2 separate regions of the Homo sapiens genome follow, and region 2 is linked to region 1. Evidence: fine-mapped expression QTL. A gene starts in region 1. The other region holds a variant in brackets. All regions are shown on one strand. Distances are between the middles of the regions. Region 1 holds the start of TFIP11 (tuftelin interacting protein 11). Region 2 overlaps TPST2 (tyrosylprotein sulfotransferase 2).

Region 1 (5,000 bases):
AACCATGGATTTTTGAGACTGAAAGGGGTATGACATTGGGTTTTTAAAAATGAAGGCTGGCGCAGTGGCTCACGCCTGTAATCCCAGCACTTTGGGAGGCCAAGGCAGGTGGATCACGAGGTCAGGAGTTCGAAACCAGCTTGGCCAACATGTTGAAACCCCATCTCTAATAAAAATACAAAAAGTAGCCAGGCGTGGTGGCGCACACCTGTAATCCCAGCTACTCAGGAGGCTGAGACAGGAGAATTGCTTGAACCCAGGAAGCATATGTTGCAGTGAGCTGAGATCGTGCCACTGCACTCCAGCCTGGGTGACACAGTGAGACTCTGTCTGGGGGAAAAAAAAATTAAAACAAATAAAAAAACAAAAATTAGCTGGGCGTGGCGGCGTAACGCCAGCTACTCGAGAGGCTGAGGCATGAGAATCACTACAGCTGCGCCTGTAATGACAGCTACTCGGGAGGCTGAGGCATGAGAATCACTTGAATCTGGGAGGTAGAGGTTGCAAATGAGCGAAGATTGTGCTGCTGCACTCTAGCCTGGGCGACAGAGTGAGACTCTGTCTCAATAAATAAATAAATAAATAAATAAGAATATAGCCACAATCCTTTAGAAAGCTCTTACCATGCCAGGAGCTTTACATGCACTAATTATCACTTTCTGTTTTTGTTTTTCTCTAAACAACTCTCTTAGATCAGTACTGTCACTATCCCCAATCTACAGATGGAAAAATTGAGGTGTAGAGAGGTGAAGCAACCTGCCCTCGGGCCCATACCTAAGAAGTAGCAAAGTCGAGATTTGGATCCTTGAAGTTTTTACTCCAGAGCTTTCATTTTAAGAAATTGCAAAAAAGTTATTAAGTACAGAGAGAAACATTTTCCCTGTAATAATTTGAAATTAAGGTGACCATTTGATGCCTTATCCCCTGCCAAATACATTGATTTACTTTCCAGCAAACAAGAACATCCTCTGATGTAACTTAACAGGCAACCATGAAAATCAGGAAATTAACACGGACACATCATTACCACGGCATTGTAGGCCCCATTTAAACTTTTCCAACTGTCCCTGTAACTTCCTTTCAAGCAAAAAGATCCAGTTCAGAATCATGTGTTGTGTTTAGTTGTCATGCCTCTTTGGTCCCCTCCAGTTTGGAACAGTTCCAGGGTCTATCTTTGATTTTCATGACCTTGGCACTTTCTAAGATTACAGTTTTGTATACAGCATGTCTCTTTACGTGGGTTTGTCTGATATATCCTCATGATTACATCCAGGTTATGGATCTTCAGCAGGAATATCACAGGGGTGATGTTGCAATCTTCTCAGGGCATCCTATCAAGTGCCACATAACTTCACTTTGTCCCATTCCTGACAATGCAGACTCTGATCACTAAATCAGAGCCTGCACTCTTAACTACTCCATGACAGTCCACAAAGGTCCCTTCTTCAGAAGCCACAAAGTGAGTTCCATTTGGTGAAGTAAATCCACTAGCATCAGTCCCTCATGATCAAAGTAATTGCAGCTCCATAAAATCTGCTGTAAAGCCATAAACATAGCTACAGAAAAGCCAAGCGTATGTATGCTTTTGGCTTTTGGGCTACAAACAGATGTAAATACATTCAGGCACAGACTAAAAACACTTTTCTCCTCTGTTTCCCTTACTCTGCTCCTGGCAGGGCTTGTAGTCTGTTAGACCCTCTCTCCCGGCCTTCAATGCTAAAACCACATTTTCCATTTCTTTCCTGAGTACATACTATGTGTCAGGCACAATGATTCTACATGTCACTAAGAATACAGAGATCATTAAGACACAGTCATCATTCCTAAGCAGCCCACATTTAACTGGGTACACAAAAATTGTTGTTTAATTCTTAACAACTACTTGATGGTAGACTTAAGTATTTGACTCCAAGTCCCGTGCTCTTTTTACATTCCAACAATTGCCTCTTGAATCTTTTCATCACATAGAGCAGAGAGAGAAAAATTAAGCAAAAATTAATAGCTAACACTTCTTCAGCACCTACTGTTACCAGGTACGGTTTTCATTGCCTACAGTTTTATCTTATTGAATCCTTAACCATTTTGCAGAAGAGAAAACAGGCTTAGATGTAATGACTTGCCCAAGGTCCACAGCTGCTAAATTGCACTCAAGGTTGGAACTCCAGAGCCTGTGGACACTTAAATGTCTACAAGGAGTCCTTGGGCTAGTGAGGGCTTCCCAGGGAGGGCCCATGACTGTTCTGCTCATTGTATCACATTGGCCTAGCACAGGTGAGGGGCACTTAGTATATTTTAATTAGATCAATGAATAAATTAATGAATTTACCAACCTGCTGGAAACGAAAAGAATGGAAACAGCTCCTGGAGAGAATACTTGGGAACTCCAGAGTTTGCCCATTCATTCCTTCATTCCCTCTTAAACTCCTGCATAAAGGCCACTGCCCTGTGCCCACGACGGTGCTTATACCGAGAGCGTCAAAGATACAGGAATCACAGTCTTGACCTTCATTATTCCCATTTGAATGCTGTGTCCCAGGCCCCTTATTGTCTCACAGTATTTACCACAACTACCGTATGGGCTAATCCTACATCTCTATTTTACAGATTTACAATCTCAGAGTGGTAAAGTCTCCTTAGGCCAAGGTGGCTCAGCGGATTCCACACCAGTCATCACAGGCTGAGCGTCACAGTACAAAGCAGGAGCGGCAGGGAGGCCGATTCCGCGGGGAAACCACTCCCCAGCTATTCTAGGCCTTGCAAATCCACCCCTCCTATCTAAGATCCCAGCCGGCCGCTCTGCAGCCATATCCGCCGTAGCGTCCCACGCTGCCCTGGCAGCCAGCAGGACATCCGCTGTCGACTAACGTCATTTCCGGCGCGCCGGCCACGGTGCTTCCGGGTTCTGGTGTAGGAGCGGCGTCTTCTCGCGCGGATGGTGAAGCTGAATTTGGTACGCTGGACCCTCGGACAGGTGAGCACGGCTGGCCACAAGGGGACTCAGCGCCAGTGAGAGTAGGGACGAAGGCTCAGGGAAGGCGAGCTTCGGTCCAAGCCGTTGGGGTGTGGGGAGGGGAATCCATTTCGTAGACAGCTCTGCCGAGGCACGGAGAGGGGCGGTGCTGCTTGGGGTCAACTGGGATTTAGGGCTTGGATTCATTTAAGAACCTGAGCTTCCTTCACCAAACCTAGACAGCAAGAGAGAGACAAGCCCGAGGCCTGACTTCTAGCACTCCTGAGTTTGAGCCCTATGAGCAGTGGAACCTAGGGTAAGTTACTAACTTCTCTGAACCTCCTTTTTCTTATCTGAAGCATGAAAACTAACGGTACCTACCTTGCAGAAGTGTCTTGATGCAGACAGTTGATAATCGGTCTCAAGCGACCAGCATGTACCTAGCATCTACTGATAAAGGCTTCATAACTTGTGACTACTCGGGGCTTATTACCATTTACTATGCCCACGCAGGCAGTGGTATTATTTAACTTTATGTATTTGAGATTCCCCGTCTTTTCTGAAAATCCTTCTGTCCTAAACACTCCTGGAAGAGGTTGGGACCCGTTGCACCCAACCGGTGCACCAGTGAGTAGAAGAAGGCAGAGATAACGTTTTGCCAGAGGTGACCAGAGTTTGACACTGCCTGTGGAAGTAGTGAACTCCGTGTGCCTTAAGGCCGCTTTCAGCAAGACAAGAATCACAATTGCTGTCACCTATGGAGTGTATTATTGTGTAGTGCACCATGCTTGGCGCTTCACGTGCATATTTAATTCTCATACACTGGGTATCTGATAGAGTTGAATTTGAACTCAGGCTTCGATTTTAGCCTGCCTGATTTTACAGTCACTTTGCTAAGTTTACTCCCTAGTCCCATAATAATAATGATGATTGTGATGGTAAATACTGAGTGTCAACTTGATTGGATTGAAGGATACGAAGTATTGATCCTGGGTGTGACTATGTGGGTGTTGCCAAAGGAGATTAACATTTGAGTCTGTGGGTGGGGAAAGGCAGACCCACCCTCAATTCAATCTGTGTGGGCATAATCTAATCAGCTGCCAGCACGGCAAGAATATAAGCAGGCAGAAAAATGTGAAAAGAGAGACTGGCCTAGCCTCCCAGCCTATATCTTTCTCCTGTGCTGGATGCTTCCTGCCCTCGAACATTGGACTTCAAGTTCTTCAGCTTTGGAACTTGACTGGCTCTCCTTGCTCCTCAGCCTGCAGACAGCCTATTGTGGGACCTTTTGATCGTGTGAGTTAATAGTTAATAAGCTCCCCTTTATATATGTATGTCTATTCCATTAGTTATGTCGCTCTAGAGAACCCTGACTAATACAATGATTAACCTAATCATGGGACTAAAGTAGAAGCTATCGTTTCTTGAGCACTTATTTTGAACTCATTGAATTTGCTTTGTAAGCCTTCTCTAAGGTTGGTATGGTAGTTAATCCCAATTTAAGAAAGACAACTGAATCTGGTCACCCAGCTACTGTGAGGTAGATTCTCTATATCAATCTCTGGACATCTGACTATTAAAATAGTGTTCATAATTACTACAGTCTTTCAGTTCATCAGAAGAAATTCATGTTTTGTGAGGAAAACTGAAAATTTTGTTTCATCAAGTAATGTATTTCAAAAAGCATATTCTAAAAAAAATCACTCTCCTAGGACCACCAAGGATCCAGATATAATTCTTTCCTCAGTAATAGAAAAAAGAATCTGGGATCTAAGAAGATACCTACTCATTTTCTAAGGTAATAATGTACAAAATAACCTACTTAGTTATTTTTGTGTGGTTTGTGTATGTGTGAATATGTGTGATATTTATGATATTGACTAGGACAAGGAGATATGTACTTTTAAAGAATCATAGACTGTTAGGAGTAGTATTTTGTTCACCTGTTTTAGTACTGATTGTTATCTAAAAGTAGGTTTTTAATATCTTTTTTATTGAATAGTAATGCTGACTTTAATGGACTTTGAATTTGGAGAAAGTTCTGAAAGCA
Region 2 (5,526 bases), 26 kb before region 1:
GCAGTTATTGGAGAGCTCACAGCTCACAGACCTCCCTGACTATGCATGTCCCCCTCTCTCCCCAGATGTGAGCCTGGCGGGCTGCCCGCTAACCTGTCGCTGAAGCCCCAGAAGCGGGCCCTCAGGCCAGGCCTACCCTGCCTCCGGCCCAGCATGCGCCTGTCGGTGCGGAGGGTGCTGCTGGCAGCCGGCTGCGCCCTGGTCCTGGTGCTGGCGGTTCAGCTGGGACAGCAGGTGCTAGAGTGCCGGGCGGTGCTGGCGGGCCTGCGGAGCCCCCGGGGGGCCATGCGGCCTGAGCAGGAGGAGCTGGTGATGGTGGGCACCAACCACGTGGAATACCGCTATGGCAAGGCCATGCCGCTCATCTTCGTGGGTGGCGTGCCTCGCAGTGGCACCACGTTGATGCGCGCCATGCTGGACGCGCACCCCGAGGTGCGCTGCGGCGAGGAGACCCGCATCATCCCGCGCGTGCTGGCCATGCGCCAGGCCTGGTCCAAGTCTGGCCGTGAGAAGCTGCGGCTGGATGAGGCGGGGGTGACGGATGAGGTGCTGGACGCCGCCATGCAGGCCTTCATCCTGGAGGTGATTGCCAAGCACGGAGAGCCGGCCCGCGTGCTCTGCAACAAGGACCCATTTACGCTCAAGTCCTCGGTCTACCTGTCGCGCCTGTTCCCCAACTCCAAGTTCCTGCTGATGGTGCGGGACGGCCGGGCCTCCGTGCACTCCATGATCACGCGCAAAGTCACCATTGCGGGCTTTGACCTCAGCAGCTACCGTGACTGCCTCACCAAGTGGAACAAGGCCATCGAGGTGATGTACGCCCAGTGCATGGAGGTAGGCAAGGAGAAGTGCCTGCCTGTGTACTACGAGCAGCTGGTGCTGCACCCCAGGCGCTCACTCAAGCTCATCCTCGACTTCCTCGGCATCGCCTGGAGCGACGCTGTCCTCCACCATGAAGACCTCATTGGCAAGCCCGGTGGTGTCTCCCTGTCCAAGTGAGTGGAGCCCCTGATGCTTCCACTCAGACTCTGGCCCTGGAGTCAGAGGCGCCAGGCAAGAAAATCAGCACTGCCTTTCTTGAGCTGTGTGGCCTTGGGCAAGTCACTATATCTCTCTGAGCCTCCGTTTCATTATCCCAAAAAATGACAACAATTACTCCTCTCCTTTCTGAGAGAATCTGCAAACTTCGTGGGCTGTTTGTTTGTTTTTTGAGGCAGTGTCTCGGTCTGTTGCCCGGCTGGAGTAACAGCCGCCACCTCCCTGTTCAAGTGATCCTCCCACCTCATCTTCCTGAGTAGCTGGGACTATAGGCATGCGCCACCAAGCTGGGCTAATTTTTGTATTTTTGGTAGAGATGGGGTTTGCCCTGTTGCCCAGGCTGGTCTCAAACTCCTGGCCTCAAGCAGTTCTTCCACCTCAGCCTCCCAGAGTCCTGGGATTACAGGCATGAGCCACCACACCCAGCCTAGAATCTGCAAACTTTGAATATGCTTTGTAGTAAGGCAATAGTGGGTAAAGGTTAAGAGCACAGATTCCAGAACAAGGATGTCTGGGTTCAAACCTCAGCTCTGCCACTTCTTAGCTGTGTGACCCTGGGCAAAGCGACTCAACCCCTGTGCTTCCATTGCTTCATCTGTAACATGGAAATATAATTTGCCTACCTTATAGATACCTGTGGGCATCAAATAGGTTAATAAATGTTAGGTGCTATTATTACTATTTTAGTGTTGATACTGCTTTTATTGATGGAGTACCCATCCTCACCATTGTCATTTAATGAGTGCCTACTGTATGGCAAGTATTGGGTTAAGCCCCCAACAAGTTTATCTCCTTTAATCCTCACAGCAACCTGAGGACATAGGAACACCTCTTATCCACATTTTATAGACCAAAAAACTGAATCTCACAGAGGAGAAGTTACTGGCCTCAGGCTACACAGCTAACAAAGCATGGTGCTGGGATTGGAACCCAGGTCTGTTTTTTGGGGTTTTTCTTGTTTTTGTTTTTGTTTTTTTGAGACAGGGTTTCACTCTGTTGCCCAGGCTGGAGTGCAGTGGCACGATCCCAGCTAACTGCAGCCTCGACCTCTTGGGCTCAAGCAATTCTCCCACCTCAGTCTCCCGAGTAGTTGGGACTACAGGCGAGCATCTCCACACCCAGCTCATTTTTTTTTTTTTTTTCCTAGTAGAGATGAGATCTCAGTATGTCTTCCAGGCTGGTCTCCAACCCCTGAGCTCAAGCCTTCCTCCTGCCTTGGCCTCCCAAAGTGCTGGGATTACAGGCCCCTGGCCTATTGTGTTCTTAAACTCCCCATGTCCAGAACTCCTCCCATCCTCCCCTTCACTCCCCCTCATCCTTTCCTTTCCTTCCTCCCTCTGTCCCTTGCTCCCTGCCTTCTTCCATTGGAAAAGCTGCTGTCCCTATCCTGAGACCCAGAGCACTTTGAACAATGCTGGAGCAGAATATGCAGTTTCCACGCTTTCCCATCCTGATCAGGCTCTGGATAGCCTGAGAGCTCAGTGAAAGGGTGGTCCTTCCCATGGCTGGTCCTTCCCATGGCTGGTCCCTGCTGGGCCCCTTCCCAGGCCCAGAGCAGAGCTAGAGGCTCGCAGCTGCTCTCCGCTAGCAACAAAGTTCCTACATGCCGGGTACCCCAGCCAGTTGGTGCTGGAGCTAGGATTTTATAAATTATTATGACAAAAATATTAGATTACCAAAGTAATACATCTTGACTATAGAAAATTAGAAAAGATACACCAAAGAAGAACGGAGAAACAACCCATGATCTCACCACCCAGATCTTGATGTGTGGCCTACTGCACCATTTTCAGGGCCTGTTGATGAAACTGGAGTCCAACGAAACATACTCCTCTGTAGCCTTTTTCCACGGTGGTGTGGGAGCCCTTGCCAGTGGCAGCCAGCACTCTTTGGTAGCAGCATTTTTGTTGTTGTTTTGTTGTTGAGACGGAGTCTCGCTCTGTCACCCAGGCTGGAGTGTAGTGGTGTGATCTCGGCTCACTGCAACCTCC[G/A]CCTCCCGGGTTCAAGCAGTTCTCCCTGCCTCAGCCTCCCAAATAGCTGGGATTACAGGCACCCGCCACCACGCTCTGCTAATTTTTATATTTTTAGTAGAGATGGGGTTTTGCCATGTTGGCCAGGCTGGTCTCGAACTCGTGACCTCAGGTGATCTGCCCGCCTCAGCCTCCCCAAGTGCTGGGATTACAGGCATGAGCCACCGCGCCTGACCTGCAGCATCATTTTGAATAGCTGTGCGACAGGCTGCTACACGGATTGCCATATTCGACTTCACATTCCCTATTGTTGGACACTTCGGTTATTTCCAGTTTTACTGATATGTATCAAGCATTGCCCTCATTCATGTTCTGGGATGTGTCCACCTCATTTCTGCACCATAAAGTCCTAGAGACACAAGGATTTTGGCAAAAGCCATGCACATACTCAAGATTTTTGACATATTGGGTAGAGTTAAGATTTAAATCCAGGTTTGCAGCCTCTGAATCTGTGTTCTACCCACCAGTCCACACCCTTTCACCTTCCCCTGTTCTCCTCACCTCACGCCCGGTCTTGTCTTCCTTTTGCTGCCTCTTTCTGTTCTTTCCCAAGTCACCTCTTAGTTGGGATGAAAACATTTAGAACTAGGCCCTTGATCCTGGGGGTTCCCCACCATTCATCCTGTCAGGCCCCTGAGTTATAATTGGTAAGATCTGCATCATTCAGGTGGCTTGGGAAGCCTGTTACAGGGAGAGTTAGGAAGCAGGTTGAAGATGATGGTTATTCCATGGTAGCTGTGAAAAGTTGGAAACAACCTAAATGTCTGTCTTCAGGGGAATGGAAAAATAAGTGATGGAGGAAGGCTACATAGCTGGCAAAAAGAGTGAGGTATTGAGTGGGGAAAAAAAACTAGCGTATTTGTTTTACAGCTGCAGACGCGCGTTTGTGTGTGTGTGTGAGAGAGAGAGCGTGTGCACAGGAGAGAGAGCATGCTAACCCTTATTAAAAATTTACAATGTGTTGGCCAGGCACAGTGGCTTATGTCTGGAATCCCAGCACTTTGGGAGGCCGAGGCGGGCAGATCACTTGAGGTCAGGAGTTCGAGACCAGCCTGGCCAACATGGTGAAACCCCGTCTCTTCTAAAAATACAAAAATTAGCTGGGCGTGGTGGTACATGCCTGTAGTTCCAGCTACTTGGGAGGCTGAGGCATGAGAATCGTTTGAACCCAGGAGGTGGAGGTTGCAGTGAGCCAAGATTGTGCCACTGCACTCCAGCCTGGGCAACAGAGTGAGACTCCATCTCCAAAAAGAAAAAACTTACAATGTGCCTACGCTCTTCTAAGCACTTTCTTTGTATTAACTCATTTACTCTTCAGACAACCCCAGTGAGGTAGGTACTACTATCATTGCCAATTACAGAAGAGGAAACTGAGGCCCAGAGAGGTGAAGTAACTTTCCCAAGGCCACACAGCTGGGGAACAGCTGGCGTCTGAACCCAGGCAATCTGGCTCCCTGGTTTGCTCTTAACTACTCTACAAGAAAAGGTTAGAGAAGGTGGTGTGCTCCACAGTGCAAAGACTGAGTGCCTGTAGGAAGCCGATGGGCTGGCAGTGATGAACACAGTGGCTTTCAGCTTTATCATTAGTGTTTTATAACTTTTTTTAGGGACAAAATATTCATGTTAGTCATACACATTAAAAAGTGTTTCTTTTTTTTTTGAGACAGGGTCTTGCTCTGTTGCCCAGTCTGGAGTGCAGTGGTGCAATCACAGCTCAGGCTCACTGCTTCTTCAACCTCCCGGGCTCAAGCAATTCTCCCATCTCAGCCTCCTGCGCAGCTGCTGGGACTACAGGCGCTTGTTACCATGCCCAGCTTATTTTTGTAATGGGGTTTCACCATGTTGCCCAAGTTGGTGTCAAACTCCTGAGCTCAAGTGATCCTTCTGCCTTGGCTTTCTGAAGTGCTGGGATTACAGGTGTGAGCCACTGTGCCTGACCTAAACTGTTGTTATTTTTTAAGCTGGAGAAGAAAGCAGAATGTATGTACCAATGGTGTATACTGCTAGTACTTTCTTCTGACTTCTCACTGCATGCTGTGTTCCCATTGTACAAAGGAGGTATGAGGAGGCAAAAATGACTCACCTGCCATCTCACAGTTGATGGGGCAGAGCTGGGTGGAGGCCAGGTTTCTCCAGTCTTTCCTGCTGCCCCAGAGTGGCTGAGCAGGGAATCCGCTCAGGCGCCATCTGGGTCTGCCCTACCCTCTCCAGCGTCTCCTCTCTCCCCAGGATCGAGCGGTCCACGGACCAGGTCATCAAGCCTGTTAACCTGGAAGCGCTCTCCAAGTGGACTGGCCACATCCCTGGGGATGTGGTGCGGGACATGGCCCAGATCGCCCCCATGCTGGCTCAGCTCGGCTATGACCCTTATGCAAACCCCCCCAACTATGGCAACCCTGACCCCTTCGTCATCAACAACACACAGCGGGTGAGTGTGCACCTGTACTTGTGGAAGTGT

The links.
Region 2: its variant is fine-mapped to the expression of TFIP11 in whole blood (TOPMed, PIP above 0.99).

The regions. Positions count from the first base shown.
Region 1 is chr22:26,510,365-26,515,364 of GRCh38, reverse strand. It overlaps TFIP11 (tuftelin interacting protein 11), which reads left to right and starts at 2,892. Exons shown (of 15, transcript NM_012143.4): 1 at 2,892-2,971; 2 at 3,190-3,266; 3 at 4,663-4,748. It overlaps TFIP11-DT (TFIP11 divergent transcript), which reads right to left and starts at 2,833. Exons shown (of 2, transcript NR_144529.1): 1 at 2,331-2,833; 2 at 797-1,953. RefSeq lists enhancers at 2,070-2,607, 2,830-3,009.
Region 2 is chr22:26,536,258-26,541,783 of GRCh38, reverse strand. TPST2 (tyrosylprotein sulfotransferase 2) reads left to right here. Exons shown (of 7, transcript NM_003595.5): 3 at 66-995; 4 at 5,298-5,496. The coding sequence starts at 154. Among named protein-coding and RNA genes, the nearest start is that of MIR548J, 16 kb to the left of the region's middle. RefSeq lists an enhancer at 1-439. The variant G/A (reference allele first, on the strand shown) is at 3,030.